Homo sapiens: one gene and its partners. The protein of the gene in region 1 purifies or fractionates together with the protein of each later gene. This does not show direct contact. Each region holds a gene or a part of one and is shown on either strand. Other genes may lie near its edges.

What was found. Proteins that work in one complex are often made in the same cells at the same time.
Region 2: the proteins of MMP7 (region 1) and CNOT10 purify together in Homo sapiens (affinity purification with mass spectrometry; 3 studies listed by BioGRID and IntAct, with this or other methods). This does not show direct contact.
Region 3: the proteins of MMP7 (region 1) and CNOT6 purify together in Homo sapiens (affinity purification with mass spectrometry; 3 studies listed by BioGRID and IntAct, with this or other methods). This does not show direct contact.

The regions. Positions count from the first base shown.
Region 1 is NC_000011.10:102,527,745-102,535,306, forward strand, and holds the start of MMP7 (matrilysin preproprotein), read right to left. Parts: upstream 3,004-7,562; 5' UTR 2,957-3,003; coding exon 2,849-2,956; intron 240-2,848; coding exon 13-239; intron 1-12. UniProt on the Homo sapiens protein: Degrades casein, gelatins of types I, III, IV, and V, and fibronectin. Activates procollagenase.
Region 2 is NC_000003.12:32,702,178-32,709,207, reverse strand, and holds part of CNOT10 (CCR4-NOT transcription complex subunit 10), read right to left. Parts: intron 5,341-7,030; coding exon 5,246-5,340; intron 4,398-5,245; coding exon 4,236-4,397; intron 539-4,235; coding exon 388-538; intron 1-387. UniProt on the Homo sapiens protein: Component of the CCR4-NOT complex which is one of the major cellular mRNA deadenylases and is linked to various cellular processes including bulk mRNA degradation, miRNA-mediated repression, translational repression during translational initiation and general transcription regulation.
Region 3 is NC_000005.10:180,560,369-180,567,398, reverse strand, and holds part of CNOT6 (CCR4-NOT transcription complex subunit 6), read right to left. Parts: intron 2,911-7,030; coding exon 2,806-2,910; intron 2,725-2,805; coding exon 2,656-2,724; intron 1,580-2,655; coding exon 1,422-1,579; intron 312-1,421; coding exon 157-311; intron 1-156. UniProt on the Homo sapiens protein: Poly(A) nuclease with 3'-5' RNase activity.

The DNA of each region.
Region 1 (7,562 bases):
AGCAAAACTAACCTGTAGGTGACCACTTTGGAAGTCCATTTTGGGCTATTTGGAAATAGTGAGTATTCTGCAACATCTGGCACTCCACATCTGGGCTTCTGCATTATTTCTATGACGCGGGAGTTTAACATTCCAGTTATAGGTAGGCCAAAGAATTTTTGCATCTCCTTGAGTTTGGCTTCTAAACTGTTGGCATTTTTTGTTTCTGAGTCATAGAGATAAAATCTCTTGAGATAGTCCTATTGAAAAGAGAGTAATTAATCTATAGTTCTTGTTTATTATATTCTTTTATCTTAGAAGCCTATATATCTCTTGCCTTTGGTTCCTGTGAATTCAAATAATGATTTGAAGACAGAATAATTACATAGTCACAGAGAAAAATAAGTGTGCATTAGTGAGGAGAAAATTTAATATTGCTAATGAAGCACTGGCGTGCCATTTCGTGAGCAAAAGAAAAGAATCCCTCAATTTTTAAAAAATCCATTTAAATGTTTTGGGGAGAATTACACTGTACACTTTATAAAGCCTAGAAGTGTGTAAGAGCAATCAGGAAGCATGTACCAGTCTGTCCTCAGGGGTACGACTGGGACATTCTCTGTGTTATCATAGACCCTGTGGGGGAGATCTGAGGTCAACCAGCCCTATCTAAAGTCCAGCTGAGATGCGGTTCCAGCTAAAAGTTAAAGGGTCTTAAAATTTTAGCTCTGGGAAAAGATATTAGGAAATTATTAAATAGTTCAATTTAATAATCCGGTGAAGGAACCAAAGCTTATAGCAACTAAATGATTTATGTGCCCAGGTTCACACCTTAAATTAGTAGCAGAACTGGACTTGACTTTCCTGACTCCTAGGTCCTCTTTTCCCTCTTTCTGCTCATTCCATTCCCAGCCCTTCTTTCTGCTGTTAAATCTCTAGTCAAACCCACTTTGGGAGATTGCAGTATACAGTAGGACTCCCAGGTTTATTCCATGCAAGGTTGGATTCCTGGGAATTTCTCTAAAGTTTCTCAGTATCTGAATATGAGGATAGGAATCCAGCAGCACAAATACAACAACAACAAAAGTGAATGAACTAACAACAATAGCAACCTCACAGGAACATTTTTAAGCACTTACTAGAGCCAGGCACTTACATATTTATTTTATGTAAACCTCATAACCACTCTATGAAACAAGTATGGCATTGTTATCCCTATTTTATACATGAAGAAACACAGCTCAGAGAAGTGAAATAAATTGCACAAGATCACCTTGTGAGTAACTGAAGGAACCAGTATTTGAACTCAAGTGTTCTGACTTCTATACATTAGAAACATGTGTAGGGTTATATGATGCCTGATAATATTGTTGTTAAAATGATTTAAACATTGGCTCACTAATTTGCAGTTTATTTGGAGTAGATGGTAATGGTTACCTGTCTTAGGACCGCCCAGGAATATGCAATTTATGTAAGAAATCTTATTAATATTGTGTCTTTTTTTCCTGTTACCAACAATTGTCTCATTAAATACAACAAATACTTATTGTTCATCCATGACAATTGATAACTGATCCTTTATTTAAAAACAAATAACCCATTTAATCCCTTCTAGAGCTACAGACTTTACCAAGACACCCTCTGGAAGAAATCTCTCTGCTTTGTTGAGATGACTTTTCCTGTTTTTTTGTTAAACCTAGCTAACATCCCTCCAAGTGAAGACTAAGTTTCTGCCAACCTTCACTCTAAGTAAAGAAACTAAACGCAGAGTACTCTTTCTGGAGAATTCATTAGGTGGAACCATATAAAACTACTGTTTTGGAGATTTTAAAAGTTAAATACTAGTAACTTTATGTGGTTCAATCTAACTTATTATAACTGGAACTTTTTAAAAGTCTAAGTTAATGTGAATTAAAAATTGACTTTTCTTATGCTTAAGGCCTAAATTTACAAATAATAGTTATAAGTAATCATCCCATTAGTTAACCAAATAATAATTAGTAGACTGCTTATATTTATTAGACTGCTTATTAAGAAGCATATTGCAAGGAACATGATTTTTGAACCAGAAGCACTTGTCCTTGATTTCTATCTCTACCACTAATAAGTACACTAATCAGTTTAACTTTGGTTTCCTCTTTTTATAGAACTAAGGATTAAATGACACAATGTCTATATAAGTACTTTATAATCTACAATTGTTACATACATGCTAGTTGGTTTTGTTATCACCTCATTTACTTACTAGAATACCCCATGAGGTATAAAACACATAATATTATTTTTTCTACTGGACACATGAGAAAACAAAGTCAGATGTTAATGCCTTGTCTATTGTCATTGACTTGTTGGAGAGTTGTAATTTCTACCCATGTTTTCTGACTTCAGATATCTCCATTACAAACAGTATTGTAAATACACAAACAGTATATTTACAGGTTGTATCTTAAGAGGCAATATTCTGTATACTATAGAAAAAGAATCTCAAGTTATAATAAATAAAAATAAGAACTTAATTTAAACAATGTTTCAGGTATTGTGTTGAATGCTTCACAACACCCTCATTTGGTTGATACCATTCTTATCTCCAACTTCCAAATTGGAAACCTGAAGCTTAGAGAAGTTTGATGACCTTCCTGAGTCTATCTACATAGTGAGTGGAGGGTTGGAACTCAAGCCCGATTTGAGCAGATTCTGAAACCTGCTTTTAATGGCTACTTGATGAAAACATATATTGCTTTTATAATCCGAAGAACCACCCCAAAGAAAATTCCACTGCAATGCTAACATGGGAAGGGAAATAATTGAAAAACACATTTCTTAATGCAGATGGCAAAAGAATGGAACCCTAAGTAAGTGGGCTGTGACATACCTGAGCCTGTTCCCACTGTAGCTCACTCATGCCTCCCGCCTCCTGAGGCAGCGGCAGGGCCAGGCTGCCAGGCAGCAGGCACACAGCACACAGCACGGTGAGTCGCATAGCTGCCGTCCAGAGACAATTGTTCTTGGACCTATGGTTGATTTGGTGTTTTCTGCTAGTGACTGCAGAAATTTATATAGCTTCTCAGCCTCGAATGTGGAAATAGGTGACTCATTTGAGTGTTTTCTTTCTTTTTAGAGTCTACAGAACTTTGAAAGTATGTGTTATTTTTCATTAACTAAAACGAGGAAGTATTACATCGTTATTGGCAGGAAGCACACAATGTATTTGTCTTTCAAAGGATTTTTTTTTCTGTCTGCTGCATAAATTGACTCCATGAGAAACCTCATTTTTTTGCCAAAGTCAAATGACTGCTCTCATAGGTATCATTCAGGACATTATGGTACCATATATTCTTAAAGAATAATATATATTCTTAAATATATATTCTTATTATATGGTACCATGTATTCTTAAATACATGGTACCATATATTCTTAACAATTAAAAGGTTTGGAAAAGTGCACAAAACATGTAAATAATGAAATAATAATTAAGCAAATACTGTAACCGTCACCAAAGTCAAGAAATAGAACATCACCAAAATCCTGTGGTTCTCCATACAGGGGAAAGATGGCAGGAGGCAGATGGAAATGCTGCTGTGTGGCTGGATTAGTGGCCACTCTATATACAACTGTGCTGTGTCCCCTCACCTTCCACGTCCCTTAGCAGAGCAGTGATAATTCCCTTCTTTGGGTCTCCTTTTAATCAGTTTATGTCTTTTCTTAATGGGGAACACTGCCTCTAATTCTTCTTGAATTAAACACAAAAAAATACCAAGCCAACAAAAATCTACAAGCACGGGTTTAACTCTTCATCTGGCTTACTTATTCTGCTTCTCATTTTATAGTAACAGATTCTTCCAAGGCTAGACCTTCAACTTGGAGATCCAATTTTTTTCTTCCAATCACTCTGACTCTGGCTGCTGCCCAGCTACAGGTAGGGCTGCATTGGTCCTTAGTACACAAAATGGTTATTCTACGTATAGCAGTAAGAATCCATTACCTACAGATTCTAGCCCAATGACTCCATTCTTACCAAAAATGAAAGTGAGGCCAAGATGATAATTTAACTTATTATACTTCTCCCAGCTCACACAGATAGTAGCTCAGTGCTTTTTCTATCCCACTGCACTGCCTATTCATTTTGTAATAGGTCTGTCTCTTTTATTATATTATACATTACTTGGGAGAACACCATGGCTTTTGACTCTAATACATCATGGGAAACACTCCAAATATGCTGGAGCTAAAAAATTTAATTAATCACATATCACTTCAATTACATGGTAATTGAGCACTGTGAGCCAGCAAAGGTAAAATTTTCAGATCAGTTAATTAAATTTGCTCTCTTTACAGAGATGTCTTGATTCTGTACGGTCACAGTTTAACTAGAGTAATTGGTATCCTTAGTCAGAGTTTGACATGTGATAAGGTGCACCATAAATATTTGTAGAATAATGAATATTTATGAACTTTACTTGAATAAGCTAAAAATGGAATTATATCACGTTTTTGGTAATATTTGCATTGAATTAAAATCAAAAGGCATTTCCTCAAGTGAATGAGCACACAAGCCACAAATTGGGTGAAAATGAATGCAAAGACACATCCATGGCCAGGCGCGGTGGCTCACGCCTGTAATCCTAGGACTTTGGAAAGCTGAGGCCAGTGGATTGCCTGAGGTCAGGAGTTTGAGACAAGCCTGGGAAACATGGCAAAACCCTGTTTCTAATAAAAATACAACAATTAGCCAAACATGGTGATGCGTGCCTGTAGTCCTAGCTACTCAGGAGGCTGAGGCACGAGAACTGCTTGAACCTCAGAGGCAGAGGTTGCAGTGAGCTGAGATCACTCCACTGCACTCCAGCCTGGGTGACAGAGGGAGACTCTCTCTCTCTCTCAAAAAAAAAAAAAAAAAAAAAAAGACATATCCAATAAAGGACTGTTATCCAAAATATACAAGTATCTTTTAAAACTCAACAATAAAAACACAAACAATCTGATTTTAAAGATGGGCCAAAAACCTTAACAGTCATCTTACCAAAAAAGATATACAGATAGTGAATAAGCATATGAAAATATTCTTCACATCATATGTCATTGGGGAAATGCAAATCAAAACAGTAATGAGATACCACTACTTACCAATTAGAAAGGCCAAAATCCAGAACGCTGACAGTGGCAATTGCAGGATGTTTTAGTGGAAATGAAAAATGGTACAGCCACCTTGGAAGACAGTTTGATGGTTTCTTTCAAAATGAAACATACTTTTACAATATGATTCAGCAATGGTGCTCCTTGGTGTTTACCTAAAGGAGATAAAAATAAATGTTTACACAAAAACATACATATAGATGTTTATAGTAGCTTTATCCATAATTGCCCAAACTTGGAAACAACCAAGATGTCGTTCAGTAGGTGAATGAATACATGTACTGCGGGACATCCAGGCAATGAAATATTATTCAGTGCTAAAAAGAAATGAGCTGTGAAACCATGAATAAACATGGAAGAATCTTAAATGCATGTTATTAAGTGAAAGAAGCAATCTGCGGGGCTACTTAGTGTATGATTCGAACTATGTAACATTCTGGAAAAGGCAAAAATAGGTAAAAATATCAGTAGTTGTGTGGGCTGGACGTGGGATAGGCAGGATGAATAGGCAAAGCACAGAGAATTTCTGGGGCAGTGCATCTACTCTGTACAATACTGTAATGGTGGATTCATGTCATTTTGCATTTGTCCAAACACATAGAATGTACAACATCAAGAGTGAACACAAATGCAATGGACTTTGGGTGATTATGATGTGTCAGTGTAGGTTCATCAATTGTAACAAATATAGGCTGGGCACGGTGGCTCACGCCTGTAATCCCTGCACTTTGGGAGGCCGGGGCAGGCGGATCACCTGAGGTCAGGAGTTTGAGGCCAGTCTGGCCAACATGGTGAAACCCTGTCTCTACTAAAAGTACAAAAATCATCCAGGTGTTGTGGCAGGTGCGTGTAATCCCAGCTGCTCAGGAGGCTGAGGCAGGAGAATCACCTGAACCCAGGAGGTGGAGATTGGAGTGAGCCGAGATCACGCCACTGCACTCTAGCCTGGGCAATACAGTGAGACTCTGTCTCAAAAAAACAAAACAAAACAAAAAAAATACACACACACACAGAAACAAATGTACCTCTCTGGTGAGGGATGTTGATAATGGGGGAGGCTATGCATGTGTGGGGGCAGGAGGTATATGGGACATCTCCGTACTTTCCTTTCAATTTTGCTGTGAACTTAAAACTGCTTTAAAAAAATAAAGTCTTAAAAAAGGTATTTTCTAGATTTTGTATTTTACATTTCTGTTTACTTTTAGCAATTCAAAGAGCATTAGAAATTACAAACACTTTAAATTAATTTTAGTGACTTCCTTCAATATTCACTCTTGAATAAGGAGAAAGAAATCTCTTGTTCATCTAAATTGTAATTAGGAAAAAAGACCCAGTGGAATCAAGTCCCAGTTCCAGCCTTTAGAAGCTCGTGCTCTAGGGTGGCAATATCGGGAGGTAAATACTTTTAAAACAAAATGACACTCGCTTATAATATGCAAAGCTACCAAAGAGAAGGGAACAGTTAATCCTTCTTGTGGGAACTGAGGAGTAATCCATACAAGAGGTGGCATTTTGGCTGGATTTTGGAGGGTAAATAGGAGTTCCCTTGGAAAAGGGCATTCCAGGAAGAAGACATGGGAAAAGAGCATGGATACAGTAGAGCGAGCAGTCAATGTGGCTGTGGTCCGGGATGGTGAGTGGTTGGAAAAGCAGGTGGGGGTCAAGTTGTTGAGAGCGAGCCTCGTGTGCCAGGGAGTTTGGACTTTATCCCAAGGGCATCAGGGAATGTTTTAAAGGAAGAAAGCAGCATGATGAGATTTGAAATGCTGTAAGAAAATGCTACTGGTGGTTGTAAAGACAGATTGTGGAAGATGAGATGATGCCCTCTAGAGGGATACTGGAGAGGCAGATAGACCAAGCAAAAAGTTATGACAATAATCCAGGTGAGACAGGGGGAAGATGAGTCCCTAAACTAAGATTGTGACCATAGTGATGAAAAAGAGGAAGGAAATCCAAGACGTATGTAGAAGGTAGGATTGATAAAAACAAAACAAAACAAAACCAAAACTGGGGAGATGATTGGCTGCAGGAATGAGAAGAAAATCAAGGATGATCTGAGCCTAATAGACTTGGTGGGTGGTCAAGCTGTTAATATGGAAACATGGCTTATAGGAAAAGAAACTAGGAGTTGATTTTGTGAGGGAAACAGATGTGGTCGTGGGAAAGTAAAGACATCATGGACATCCTGGACATCGGGTTCAAGGTTTCAGCTGGAAATTGGGTCTGGAGCTAATGAGAGTGATCTGGTCCATAGGTTATGAGTGACTTATTTTTAAGGAAGGAAACTATGTTTTCTTAACTGGTAAAATATACATCATATAAAATTTACCACTTTAACCATTTTAAGTGTACAATTGAGTTTCATTAAGTACATTTACAACGTTATATAATTATCACCAATATCCATTTCGAGAGCTATTTTGCCATCCCAAAGAGAAACTCTGTATCCA
Region 2 (7,030 bases), on another chromosome or scaffold:
CAAAAATTTCAGTAAGGCAAAGGGCAAAAATGAAATACCTCACTGTCCCCTAACATTCCAAAATGCTACTTCCTTAATGTACTAAAGTAAGAAAGGATCAGGTACACTAAAATAGTGTTGAAACAGCAAAAACCCCACAAACATCACTAAGTGTTTTCAGCACTTTCCAACAGCATTTTTAACAGTTATCTTCAAAATTTGGGAAGGGACACTCAAAGAAAACCTGGATTACATTTTTATCTTTTCTAACCATTAAGCAAAGCTGATACGGCTTTTCTTTGAATACTGGCATGGACTTCTCGGATTTAGGTTATCTAGGTAAAAGTACCAGAGAATTCTGCAAGTATAGGGAAGATAGGGAAATTTTTGACTTGACAGATAACATACCAAAAGGCTCTATGAACTGATAAAGTTTTTCACCAACTGATATGGCTTCTGTATACTGCCGCAGATGATAAAGAATGACTGCTTGATTATAGTACAACATGCTGTTTTCAACATCATCTAATCCATCCATTTCTTCAACAGCTGAGTGGACCTATAAAGCAATCAACAGAGGTTATATTTTAACATTAAGGAAATAAAAAGCAAAAGTGAAAGAATTCATATGAATAAAAAGGAACATAGGCCAACATTCTTATTCTGAATTTTTCCATACTTTCAACAGTATCTTTAGATTTTAATTACTCTCACATACTAAAAATTATTTTCATTCTTCTGTGCCACACATAATAAAATTTTAGGTAAAATGTTTTCATGAGACTTTATTAAGTACCCAGCACATGGCTAGACAATTATCTTCCTTGTCACTGTGAAGCTATCTTCCCTGTTTCAATTGGTAACACCACTTCTGAGTAGGATTCCCATCTCCTAGTCTCACAACCTACAAGAGGCTACACCAGGCGTGCAACAAACTCAAAATGACCTTTCCCATAAAAATGTCACGTAGTATTCATAGTTTGATTTCATTTTGTAAAAACTAAGGTAAAATTTAAACATTAATAATAGCTGGCCGGGCGTGGCAGCTCATGCCTGTAATCCCAGCACTTTGGGAGGCCGAGACAGGCAGATCACTTGAGGTCAGGAGTTTGAGACCAGCTTAGCCAACATGGTGAACCCCGTCTCTACTAAAAATACAAAATACAAAAAAAAAATTTAGCTGGGTGTGGTCGCACGTGCCTGTAGTCCCAGCTACTCGGGAGGCTGAGGGAGGAAACTTGCTTAAATCCAAAAGGCAGAGGCTGCAGTGAGCCAAGATCACATCACTGCACTCTAGCCTGAACAACACAGCGAGACTCTGTATCAAACAAAACAAAAATAGTTAACTATTTACCATGTGCCAGACTTGCTATGTTAAAACTTTTACAGGTTAATCCTCACCATACCTCAAGGTCATAGATAATTTTTTTTTTTTTGAGATGGAGTCACCCAGGCTGGAGTGCAGTGGCACGAACTCAGCTCAGTGTAACCTCCACCTCCAGGGTTCAAGTGATTCTCCTGCCTTAGCCTCCTGAGTAGCTCGGACTACAGGCATGCACCACAACACCTGGCTAATTTTGTATTTTTAGTAGAGATGGGGTTTCACCATGTTGGCCAGGCTGGTCTTGAACTCCTGACCTCAGGCGATCTGCCCACCTCGGCCTCCCAAAGTGCTTGGATTACAGGCATGAGCCACCGCACCTGGCCGAGGACATAGATAATTTCATTTCCACTTTATACATAAGGAAACCAGCACAGAAAACTTAATTATCTTGCCCAAGGCCATAGGGCTAGAAAGTATATTTTCAGGTTTCGTTCCCGTAAAAAAGAATAGATTTTTTTAAAGTACTCAATAATAAAAATATATTATTGCACACATGATGGTTAGAAAAGGCTTTTATGGGCTTCACTAAAGGCTAACATCTGTAACTGACACAAAAGAAAAAAAAAAAAGCATGACACTTTGCATTCTCAAACTGTATACCCCCTTATGTAAGCTGTAGCAATGGGCTTTTAAATTTTAATCAAGCTTTACAACCATTGCACAATTCCATGTAACACATGAAACTGGAAGTCTACTTGTATTAAAACTAACCTTTGCCATTATGAAGATTGCAATAAATTATTGTTCAATATTAAGTAATTAACTCTAAGACCAACACTTCCATAGAACTCTGATATACAGTACATGGATTTAACAGCCTTGGTTTGACTAATGGCAAGGAACCTGAAGGTTCACTACACACAATGAATTGTAAATTTTGTAACTGGACTTCAGCAGACGTCAACCACCCACGTGGTTAAGCTTGACATGGTTCAAATGTTAGCAAGTGGTCCTAGCTGACCAACATGTGCATCTCAATGAGTTTGGGAACTTTTTATAATCTTCACTTATCAAGTCACTATCTTAAAGAGATTAAAAACAGTATCTTCAAACAGTGAAAACTCAATTTCCAAAGGCAACTCTTTCTGTAGTTATGTAATGGAGAGAGACTGAGTTAAGAAGAGTTTAGCCAGAAAAGCTTTTAGATAAACTATGGCGTTTTGGATTCAGCAATGGTTGAATAATTATCACACAAATAACTTTGCCACATATTCTATGACTCACCAAAATAGTCTAGTAACTGCTCCAGCCAAAAGAAAAACTACTCATTAAGTGAAATTAGACGTTTGCTAATTAAAATGGAATAGGTTGAAAAGGTGTGTCACTGTGCCCGATGTGACTGCGAACAGAAGTATGATTTAAAGAAGTCAGTAACCACAAGTACAAACACTTCTAGGAAACTCAAGAGTTGGAAGGCCCTAACAAACCTTATAAACAATAAAAGCTAGTGAAAGAACTTCACAAAGTTTTTTTGGCCTAACTGGAAGTTTGCAGGAATTGCTTATTCAAAAAAAGTTTAAAGGCTGAACTTATTCTCAAAAACCAAACAAATTTGTCTTGGAAGAAACTGTCTATGGGGTCATAGGGTGCATGTACTAGATTATCAGTAAGCATCATCTTTCTTTTGATTCTGGAACACTAGATAAAATCATCAGTAATAATACTGGAGTAATGAGGAAACGTGAGGACATACAAATTTATGAAGACTGAGACAGGTAGGAGAACAGGCTCAAGAGTCAGAAGGCCTGGTTTAAATCTGTTCTTCCCCTTCCTAGTTGTGTAAATTTAAATTAGACTTCCTAAATTCTGGTTTTAAAACTGAGATAATAAGCACCTACTGCCTCAAGAGTTGAATGTGAGGATTATATGAGATAAGGCATAAAAGGCACTTAATACAGAATTTGGCACCCAGTATGCATTCAATAAATGGTAGCTATTATTCTCATTTTTGAATTTTAATGGGGTTTAAAAATTACTTTATGCCTATAAAGGATTACAGAGAGCCTGAAGGGACAACTTGCTTCTCTACCTGTGTCACACTTTAGGGTGATACTATAGAGTATCATGGTACTCATGATTACAGGAAAGGTCTCATGACTCCCTAACAGCATGAAGCAGTAACTAAAATTACAGGCTATAGAGTTAAATACAACTGAGTTCATGTAGCTCTTACTACTCAAAAACTTTGTGTTTTTGGACAATTTACACAGCTATCTGTGCCTTGGCTTTTCCACTTTTAAAATAAGAAAAATTATATAGCTATTTCATAGGGCTACTGAGAAGAACAAGCTGAGAAGTTGCATACAAGCGCTTGGCAGAGCCCTGTCACACAGTGAACACTTAACATATGCTAGCTGATCCTATCAGCACCATCACTGTTATCAGCCCTCTTGAACACCAAAAGTCTAGCCCCAGGATTCAAGAAACATTGCCATTATCACCAGACCAATCCCCAATTCAAGCCCCAAGCCAGATACAAAGCAGAATATCTTCTATTTAATCAATCATCTCCTGATCCAAATGCTAAAACGACTTGACATTAGGATTAATCATATTTTTTTCATTATAAACAAGATATATCTCCACAGCTAAGCTTCTTCATATAGTTCTTTCTCAAAACTCCAAAGCTCATTCAAATTTGGTATATTAGTCTATTCTGTTCAAGTTCATTAAAACCCCAATTAAAAAAAATGATCCCACAACATACCTTTTATCTCCTGGAATAATAATTTTACGGAAATAAAATTAATGCTAACAAATGTTTCTGACAAGAAATACCAGACAAATCACATTTATTTTCCTTAACTATTTGTGTTTCATAAATTAAAGAACAGAACAATATTTTTTATAGTTAAATTCATTTATGTATCACCTGATTCTTCAGCTGGTTAAGTGTTTGTCTCAAATTATCTGTTGTTGTTTGGTTACTTTTAAAAAACTCAGCTACTGCTGTATTCAAAATTATTTTATAATCATCTTTGTTTATATCTTGTAGACAGGCAAGGTGTTGTAGACAGGCATCATAATTTCCAGACTAAAAAAAAAAAACCACACACACACACACAAAATTACATACCAGCTTTAAATACAGTATATCATTCCAAATATATTTCATTCATCTTTATCTTAAAAGTTCTTAAAAAGAAAGATGTAGTTTCCCTACATATACTAATCAAAGTCACTAAAGCAACATTCATGTCAGTTAAACTGTGGATATTTACTTCCTAAGACTCAAAACCCTGACATTGACACATATAAGACACATATATTGATATGATAAATATACTGGCATATACATATAGTGCTAGCAGGGTATTAATGGCTGAGGCTAGTCAAGAAAGGTAATATAATCACTCCAAATTTTATTTTCTAGTAAATATATTTTAAATACCCAAGCATCAAGTTCTTCTGCTTACATGCACGTAACCTGATAACCAAATAAGGTTTTCTTTCATATTGTTTAATGCCAGAAAAAGTTAAAATTCTGCCAATAAAGTTTTGGGGTTCCATTTTAAAGTACCTTCAAGAAAATAATTTTTGAATCTGATATTTTCAGAAATAAATAAATAAAAGAATTGAACAGCTTAGTGAAATGAAAAGACTGACCCACATACTTACAAATCTAAATTTAAAAGACTTAAAAACAACAGTATATGAGTTAAAACATGTTTACAAAAACTTGGGAATGGCTCCAATTATTCCCATTCCTTTCACCATATTTAAACTCTAAAACATTTATTTTAAAAATTAAACCTACTTATCTCTAAATTAACTTTTGAATTATTACAGAGTAAAAATTGTAAATTTAAAAATTCACTATGAAAAGATTCATACTTGACAGAACCCTACAACTTGAGCAGACTAAGAGAAGCCATTTCTTACTGTGAAAGCTTGGAAAGCATTGGTGGATAACTCCTTCTCTTGATCAGTGATCCCAGAGGACTGACCTGTGCCTTCATGTTTCTCTGCTCCCTGATCTGCAAACACACAAATTTTACAGTTCTTTAGAAATAAAAGTTGTACAGTGGTCCCTCCTTATCCAGTTTCACTTTCTGCAGTTTCAGTTACCCAAGGTCAAGTATGAAAATATCAGATGGAAAATTCCAGAAATAAGCAGTTCTTAAGTTTTAAACAGCAATGTTCTGAGTAACATGATGAAATCTCTTGCCATCCTGCAGTGTCCCGCTCTGTCCCATCCAGGAAGTCAATCATTCCTTTGTCTAGCATTCCATGTTGTATAAGATACCTCCCCCTTGGACACACAGTAGCCATCTTGGTTATCAGATCAATAGGTCACAGGAAGAAAGGTGAGTAGGGTACAGTAAGATATTTTGAGAAAGAGAAACCACATTCAGATAACTGTTATTTTATTACTGTTGTTGTTAATCTCTTACTGTGCCTCATTTATAAACTTTATCATAGTTATGTACGTATTAAAAAAAGCAGTACATAGGTTCAGTACTATCTGTGGTTTCAAGTATCCACCGGAGGACCCTGAATGTATCTTCTGAGGAAAAGGTGGGGGACTACTGTATAGTGAATTTGTCCCTAGTTTTCATCTTGTGTTCTTCCTAATAAAGTGGCCAAAGTTAGGGCTCTCTCAACAATAACTGATTAATGTTGCCAGGCACGGTGGCTCACGCCTGTAATCCCAGCACTTTGGGAGGCCAAGGCGGGCACATCACAAGGTCAGGAGATCGAGACCATCCTGGCTAACACGGTGAAACCCCGTCACTACTAAAAATACAAAAAAAAAAAAAAAAAAATTAGCTTGGCGTGGTGGCGGGCGCCTGTAGTCCCAGCTACTTGGGAGACTGAGGCGGGAGAATGGCGTGAACCTGGGAGGTGGAGCTTGCAGTGAGCCAAGATAATGCCACTGCACTCCAGCCGGGGCGACAGAGTAGGACTCCGTCTCAAAAAAAAAAAAACAACAAAAAACAATGACTGATTAATGTTATAAGCTAATAAGAAGCTACTCCTCTGAAAGCTTGAAAAGGTTCCTATGGCCAAGTTGAAACACAATGAAAACCTGCCCACTTAAATAAAGACCACAAGCCCTGTAGATGAGGACATTCAAGCTGAGAATATTGTGCTCTTTAAAAAATATTAGATCTGCCACCCAGCAATATACAGTCCCACATATTCAAGCAACTATGGCAGGTGCTGGAGATATAAACACACCTACGATGGCTTTAAGAGATTTATAATTTAGTTGGAAAGTAGTAACAATCAGAAAACTACACTGATAAGGGCTTACAGCTAATTTCCAGGCAAGGAATATTTTCATAGGCTCAGAAATCCAAAATATTAACACATTTAAAAAGTTTCTTTAATATGTTAAGTGTCCATATAAATTCACAGTAAAGGTTAATAATCTGTTTAGCTGGGAAAACTACCTCCTACCTCTATAATTTGCTATTTTAAATATTAGATGTTTTGCTTTTTGTTTTAATTTGAAAATAGAATTCCAAAATAAAGGTAAAAATCTCAGCTGAACCAAACCTAAACTACTCAGAGCAAAAGTGTGTTAAGTACTCTAACAAATGCTTCAATACTTTTTATAGTTCTCTCAAGAGTCACTGTTGGCTGGGCGTGATGGCTCATGCCTATAATCCCAGCTACTTGGGAGGCTGAGGCACGAGAATTGCTTGAACCTGGGAGGCAGAG
Region 3 (7,030 bases), on another chromosome or scaffold:
TAAAAACAAACAAAAACCCCCTAGGTCAAACAGTATTCTTTGCTTCAGTAATAATATAGTGCCTCATTCTCTCATTTGCCAATTAGTTTCCACACCCTTGGCCCCCACCCTGCAAATACTGAGAAAACGTTCTTTTTAAAAAATAAGATGACTTACTTTTCTGTCTTGAAGAATATTGCACAGCCATCAACATGTTTCCTTTCTTGTTCTGACATTGTCCTAGCTCTAGACTTAGGACTGAAGAATCCATTATAGCCACGTTCTTTCAGCTCTACCAGAAAAAAACTGTAATACTGTTCCGTTTCAACCTCCTGAAAAGTTGTAAACAGCACAGTTATTTCATAAGACAAAAATTAGTCTGCATATTAACTTCTATGTATAGTTTGAGAGCTTGAAATAATTTCAAAGGACTGGTCTGCAGATTAAAGAATGTAACATCTTTCCGGGCCGGGCATGGTGGCTCATGTCTGTAACCCCAGCACTTTGAGAGGCCGAGGCGGGCGGATCACTAGAGCCCAGGAGTTCCAGACCAAGCCTGGCCAACATGGCGAAACCCCATCTCTACTAAAAATACAAAAATTAGCCAGGCATGGTGGTGCATGCCTGTAATCCCAGCTACTACGGAGGCTGAGAATCACTTGAACCCAGGAGGCGGAGGTTGCAGTGAGCTGAGATCATGCCACTGCATTCCAGCCTGGGGGACAGAGAAAGAGCCTGTCTCCCCACCACCCAAAAAAAAAAAAAAAAAAAAAAAAAAAGTAACATCTTTTCAACACTATTTATCTGAAACCAACTGGAACAGCGACTTGTCATTTTACAGGTACTAGGTACCAAGGGCAACTCATTGTTGTTTAAGAACAGTGAGTGAAAGACACACTTCTATGCATGTGTATTTCCTTATGTCTTAGAACTGAGGTGGAACAAGAACCACAGAGGTCGACGAACTTTACAAATCATAACTTCAGACCCTTGGGCAGAAAGTAACATGTTCAAGATCATATGAGTGACTATGAGAGTTGCACTGAGAACCCAAAATGTTCGTGTACCAAGTCAGTCCTTTTTACACGGTGCCTTAATTGTTCTAGCAACATGGTCGGCAATGCAAGTTATAGCTTGACCACGCTAGAATTTCAGTAACTTTGCCACCCAATTCAAAAATAGTGCAGGGACGCTGGAGGGAGGAGGAAGGTGAGTATTTAGCGGTCATGGCAAACGCATAAATCCCAGCTTAACACATTTGCCTATTTTGCAACATAGCACTGCAAAGCAAAGCAGGCAGTACTCCCAGGATTCACTAATAACAGAAAAAAGCAGTACTTTAAGAACTACTGAAGCTAAAACTTCAAATGTGTCAGCGTAATGTATTCCTAGTTGCTCCTTCCTTTATCAATGCTAGGTTGACTGTCTTCTGTCTGACTTACCTGAAGACTTACGATATCAGCATTGCAGCTCAAGATTTCTTGAATAATGGCCTTTTTCCTGTAGTCCCAGTTTAGCGCCCATGATGGACAGTAGCCGTATAACTGCCGGGTCGCATATTTATCACAAAGAACATTATAGCACATGACAGAAAACAAGGCTGTAGGAAAGATAACTTTACTTATTCACACATGTGGCAGAAAAAAATATATAATTAATTTCAGTAATGGTTTTCACTTAAATGTTAAGTTTGACCGTATTCATTCAATCTATAGTCACTGAAAAGCTACTGTACGCCACATATGGGGGATAAATAAAAGACGGATAATGCAAGCAGGATAGATAAGTGAACAAGTTAGAATACAATGTACTACCTGCTACAGAGGTAGGCACAGAAGGTCTGGAAGTGAAAAGTCTAAGCTCGTGAGCCCTTCAGTCTCTGAGCCTAACATTCCTCATTTCTATACTCCTTCTACCATGCTACCAACTGTTAATGTAAGATGTGGAAACTGGATAGGTAGTATCCTTAATAGGCATGCCTCATTTTCTTCTACAGCACAACTATTGTTAATTCATGCAAAATGAAAACGGTATCACAGACCAAATTTTGTTACACGCACCATGAAAGCTCCCAAACTATTTACATAGAATTTAGGTTAAAAGGAGATGAGCAGTCATTAGTTCCACTTTCCTCTAAGTAAGGGTTTGGCTCTCTTATAACTCGGTAGTGTCAAATCCATTTGGAACATGCTAGGATTTGGAAACTTCTCATAGAGAAAAATTTGGGTGTATTCATTTTAAGTGAATTTCATCAGTACACTACAGAAGGGTTTCTCAACCAGAGTCGCACTACTGACATTTCAGGTGAAGTCTGTTGTGGGGGCCTGTGCCGTGTACTATAGAATGCTGAGCAGCAACCCTGGCCTCCATCCACCAGACGCCAGCAGCACTTCTCCCCAGTTACGACCATCAAAATTGTCTCCAGACATTGCCAAATGTCCTCTGGGGGATAAACTGCCCGTTTGAGAAGCACTGCTTTATAGCACACTTTCTATATAGCACAATGTAGTATACATAGAGGTCATGTGAGCAAGAATTCTTTTTTATTACCTCCCAAACCAAACCAACCTTAAACATTTTGTCTTAATGCTACCTGTAATCTAAGCATGCTGACAATACTGTTAGGCTTATAGAGACTGAGCAAAAATAACAGTTAAAAAATAAAAGACTACCAACCAGTTGGCCTTGTCCTATCTGGTTCTTGTAACATAATCCAAGACCTTGGAGGTGGTTGTTCTGTTGTAACTAGTTGAATAGAAAATACAGAATTAAGCAATATTCTTACACGTCTTCCTAATAAAAAGGTTTAAACAAATAACCACTTACTTCTTTTTGCAGTACCTGACAAATTATCAAGCAAATAGTTCAGCAGCCGTCTTGTTCCATCTGGTTCCTGATAAAGGTTCAATATATCCTGGGTAAGGGGATTTCCTGGAAATATTTTTGAAATAAGTAAAATGAAACTAAGTAATAAAATGTTTCAAAATTTTAAAATGTATCAAAATTATCAGATCATCCATAACTATGTTATAGTTACTAGTAAGATGTCAGACTATAGAAAATATTGTTTTTTCAGTTTCTGATATAAGTAAAAATGATTCATACCATGTTCTATATACACATTCAAAACATAATGTTAATGGGCTGATGTCAATCAGAAATGCACTAGCAGTGCTCTATATCTGACCCTGCCTTGCCAACACTTTCAATAATACAGATGGTTATAACAAACAAGAGTGAGCAAAACACGAACGGGGCAGGCAGGTGACTGGGAGAGTGGGTGGGCAGAGGAAACAGTGAAGGGAAGGATGAAAGCCAGCGTAATGCATCAGAGAATCAAAACTCTACAATGTCACAAAGCTAACAACAAAACACCCTAATGACAAATATACACTTGCACTTAGATTTTTTAAAGTCATACTGAACAAAGCAACAAAATGGGGCTGACTTGGCTTAAGAATTAACTCACTAAGGAGGGGGAAAAAATCCCAGGGCCATGAGCCATCTGTAAATTCAATAACTGCTTTGTTCCAAAATGAGAGCAAAAACAATGATTTACATATACCTACAAGAATCTCAAATCCTCTCAGAAGGGTTTCTTATGTACATGAGAAATAAAAGTACAAATAACAACAGTGCAGCGCAGGGTTTCATGGAGCAAAGTTCCTATCCATCCTACACAAGCATTGTGTATTATTCTGGATGCCACAGCGCCATTTTAAGAAAACCAGACAAATTCTGCAGTTTGAAGAAGGCAGATAAAATGGTCAAAGATGTTAACCATACCAAATGAAGAAAAACTAAAGGATATGGTAGATAAGAATGATCAAAACCTAAAGGAAGTGTTTTTTCCTATTCTCTCATAAAAGACTGGACTCAAAGAGCAGAAGGAAGACATGCCTGTAATCCCAGCACTTTGGGAGGCCGAGGCGGGCGGATCACGAGGTTAGGAGATCGAGACCATCCTGGCTAACACGGTGAAACCTCGTCTCTACTAAAAATATAAAAGAAAAAAAAAGCAAAAACAAACAAAAAAAAACAGCCAGGCGTGGTGGCGGGCGCCTGTAGTCCAGCTACTCAGGAGGCTGAGGCAGGAGAATGGCGTGAACCTGGGAGGCAGAGCTTGCAGTGAGCCAAGATCGCGCCACTGCACTCCAGCCTGGGCAACAGAGCGAGACTCTGTCTCAAAAAAAAAAAAAAAAATTTAACAGGAAAGGCCAAGGCCGAATAGAAGAGGTTGGCAAACACTGTTAACTATTTGAGACACCCTGTGCTGTGAGGCAGTGGAGTATCCTTCAAAGAAGCTGAGTTGCATGGATGGGAAAAATGGCAAAGTTCATTTATCTTTAAGATCTTTCGGTTTTAAGATTCTAGGATTCTAAGAATTATAAAAAGAAAAATGTGCTGCTCTAAGTGCAAAGTAGGTATTTGCAGGAAGGCAATTACAAGAGTACCATTCTCTCACGTGTGTGTGGTTCTTTATACCCACCACAGCCTTTTCATGTTTTCACTGAGTCACAATCCCGTGAGATAAGCAGTTACAACCTGAAGCTTATCAGGACCCTTTGTGAAACACATCTTGAGAAAATGAAGTCAACTGAAAACTTCTCGGTATCAGGTAAACAGCTCATTCTAACCAGACCTACAGTGATGCTGTTTTCTTTTTCTTATTTTTTTTTTGAGATGGAGTCTCGCTCTGTTGCCCAGGCTGGAGTGCAGTGGCACCATCTCGGCTCACCGCAAGCTCCGCCTCCCGGGTTCACGCCATTCTCCTGCCTCAGCCTCCCAGGTAGCTGGGACTACAGGCAGCTGCCACCATGCCCGGCTAATTTTTTGTATTTTTAGTAGAGACAGGGTTTCACCGCATTAGCCAAGATGGTCTCAATCTCCTGACCTCGTGATCCACCCGACTCGGCCTCCCAAAGTGCTGGGATTACAGGTGTGAGCCACCGCGCCCGGCCAGGACTTCTTTTAAATTGAAAATTAATCTGCTCTTCACTACTTGGAAACAGAAAACAATATATATGAATAAAGTCAATAACAATAAAATTCTGGAATTAAAACTATACTGAGTCCTGAGAAAGAACAAAAAAGTAAATGAGAAGTTACTTTAGGGTAGATGGAGTAAAAACACTTTTCCCTATTCTTCCCACTAGGTACAACTAAAAGCACTGTATATTATGTGTAAAGCAAACACAAAACTCTGAAAAAAGGAGAGAAGGCAGAATAGCCAAAGACTGCAGGACCTGACGAACGGCACAGGGATGAGTTCCCTGGGTTCACTTTTTGCCTCAGATATGCCAGACATGCAGCTAAGAAGCCAGTAACATGGAAATACCAATGGGTACAGACCCAAAAGAATCCCAACAAAAGCCAAAGGACCAGGGAAGGGCTGCCTAAAAGGACAAAAGTTTTAGATAAGAACCACTGTACTCAAGCTTAACACTAAAGAAAAAAACGTGGTCCCATCTCTACCCATGCCAGCATGAGCAAGTGGAGAGGCTGGTAGACTTCTGCTGCAAGAGAAAGAAAGGAGGCGATATGGAGCTCCCTTCCTCCCTCTGAGGTGGTGTCAGAGGAGGCCAAGGAGAGTCAAGACTTTCACCATCTCCCTGCAATAAAGAGGACACGCCAGTGCGGTGCCTGTGGAGGCCGCGTGAAGAGCCAAAACTACCACCTCCACCAGAAGCAACGAGGAGCCCCCACTCCCAGGTGTCAGCGAAGGCCAAGTGGAACCTGAACTTCTACCTCCACTGGCAGTAAGGAGACAGTGCCTGGTTCCCTTGTCACAGCAGTGCTAGGCAAAGAAAACCAAACTAAAGGGTTTAAACAAGATCTAGAGTTTCATAACATGAGTGAGTCCAGTTTCAAATGAAAATAGCTCATCACACCAAGACACGAAGATATCAAATGCAAAAAGATAAACACAACTTCCAACCCTGAGATGACAGAAACAGAATTACCCAACCAAGACAAAGGAATCATGACAAAAATGCTTCAATGAGAAATTAAAAACATGCTTGAAAACACACACACACACACACACACACACACACACACACAAAACACACAAGAAAACAGGAAGACTGAGCAAAGAAACAAAGTTCAGGCAAATAAAACATTTAAAACCAAATGGGAATATTAGAACTGAAAAATAAAATAAATGAAGGCTAGGCACAGTGGCTCATGCCTATAATCCCAGCACTTTGGAGGCTGAAGCAGGAGGATCACTTGAGGCCAGGAGTTCGAGACCAGCTTTGTTAACATGGCAAAATCTCGTCTCTACAAACAAACAAACAAAACTAGCCAGGCATGGTGGCACATGCCTGTGGTCCCAGCTACTTGGGAGGCTGAGGTAGGAGAGCTGCTTGAGCCTGGGAGGTCAAGGCTGCAGTGAGCCAAGATCGTGCCACTGCACTCCAGCCCGAGACCTCGTCTCTTGATTGACTGATTGATTGATAGATAGATAAGAACACAGACCAACACCACCACCACCACCAACAACAACAAAAAGAACAAAGTCTCTGGGGCTTGTGGGACTATAACAAAAGATCTAACATTCATGTCATCAGAGCCTTGGACGCTGAGGACACGGAGGACAGGGCTGAAAAAGTACTCAAAGCAATAATGGCTGAAGATTCTCACAATATGGCAATAAATATAAACCAACAGATTCAAGAAGCACAGTGAACCCCTACACAAGAAAAACCCAAAGGAATCCACAGCAAGACACATCATAATTAAACTTCTGAAAACTAAAGACAAAGAAAAAACATCTTGAAAGCAGCCGGAGAAAAATGACACCTTACCTGCAGGAGAAAAACAAATTGGAATGACGAAAGATTTGTCATGATAAGCCATGGAAGCCAGAAGGAAGCAGCAAAATATTTTTCAGGTGTCGAAAGAACTGTCAAACCCAGATTCTTATATCCAGTGAAAACATCCTTCAGGAATGAAGGAGAAATAAAGACAATCTCAGAGGACAAAAAACTAACAGAATCTGCTGCCAGCAGATCTACCCAAAGGGAACCACTAGAAAAAGTTCTCTAAA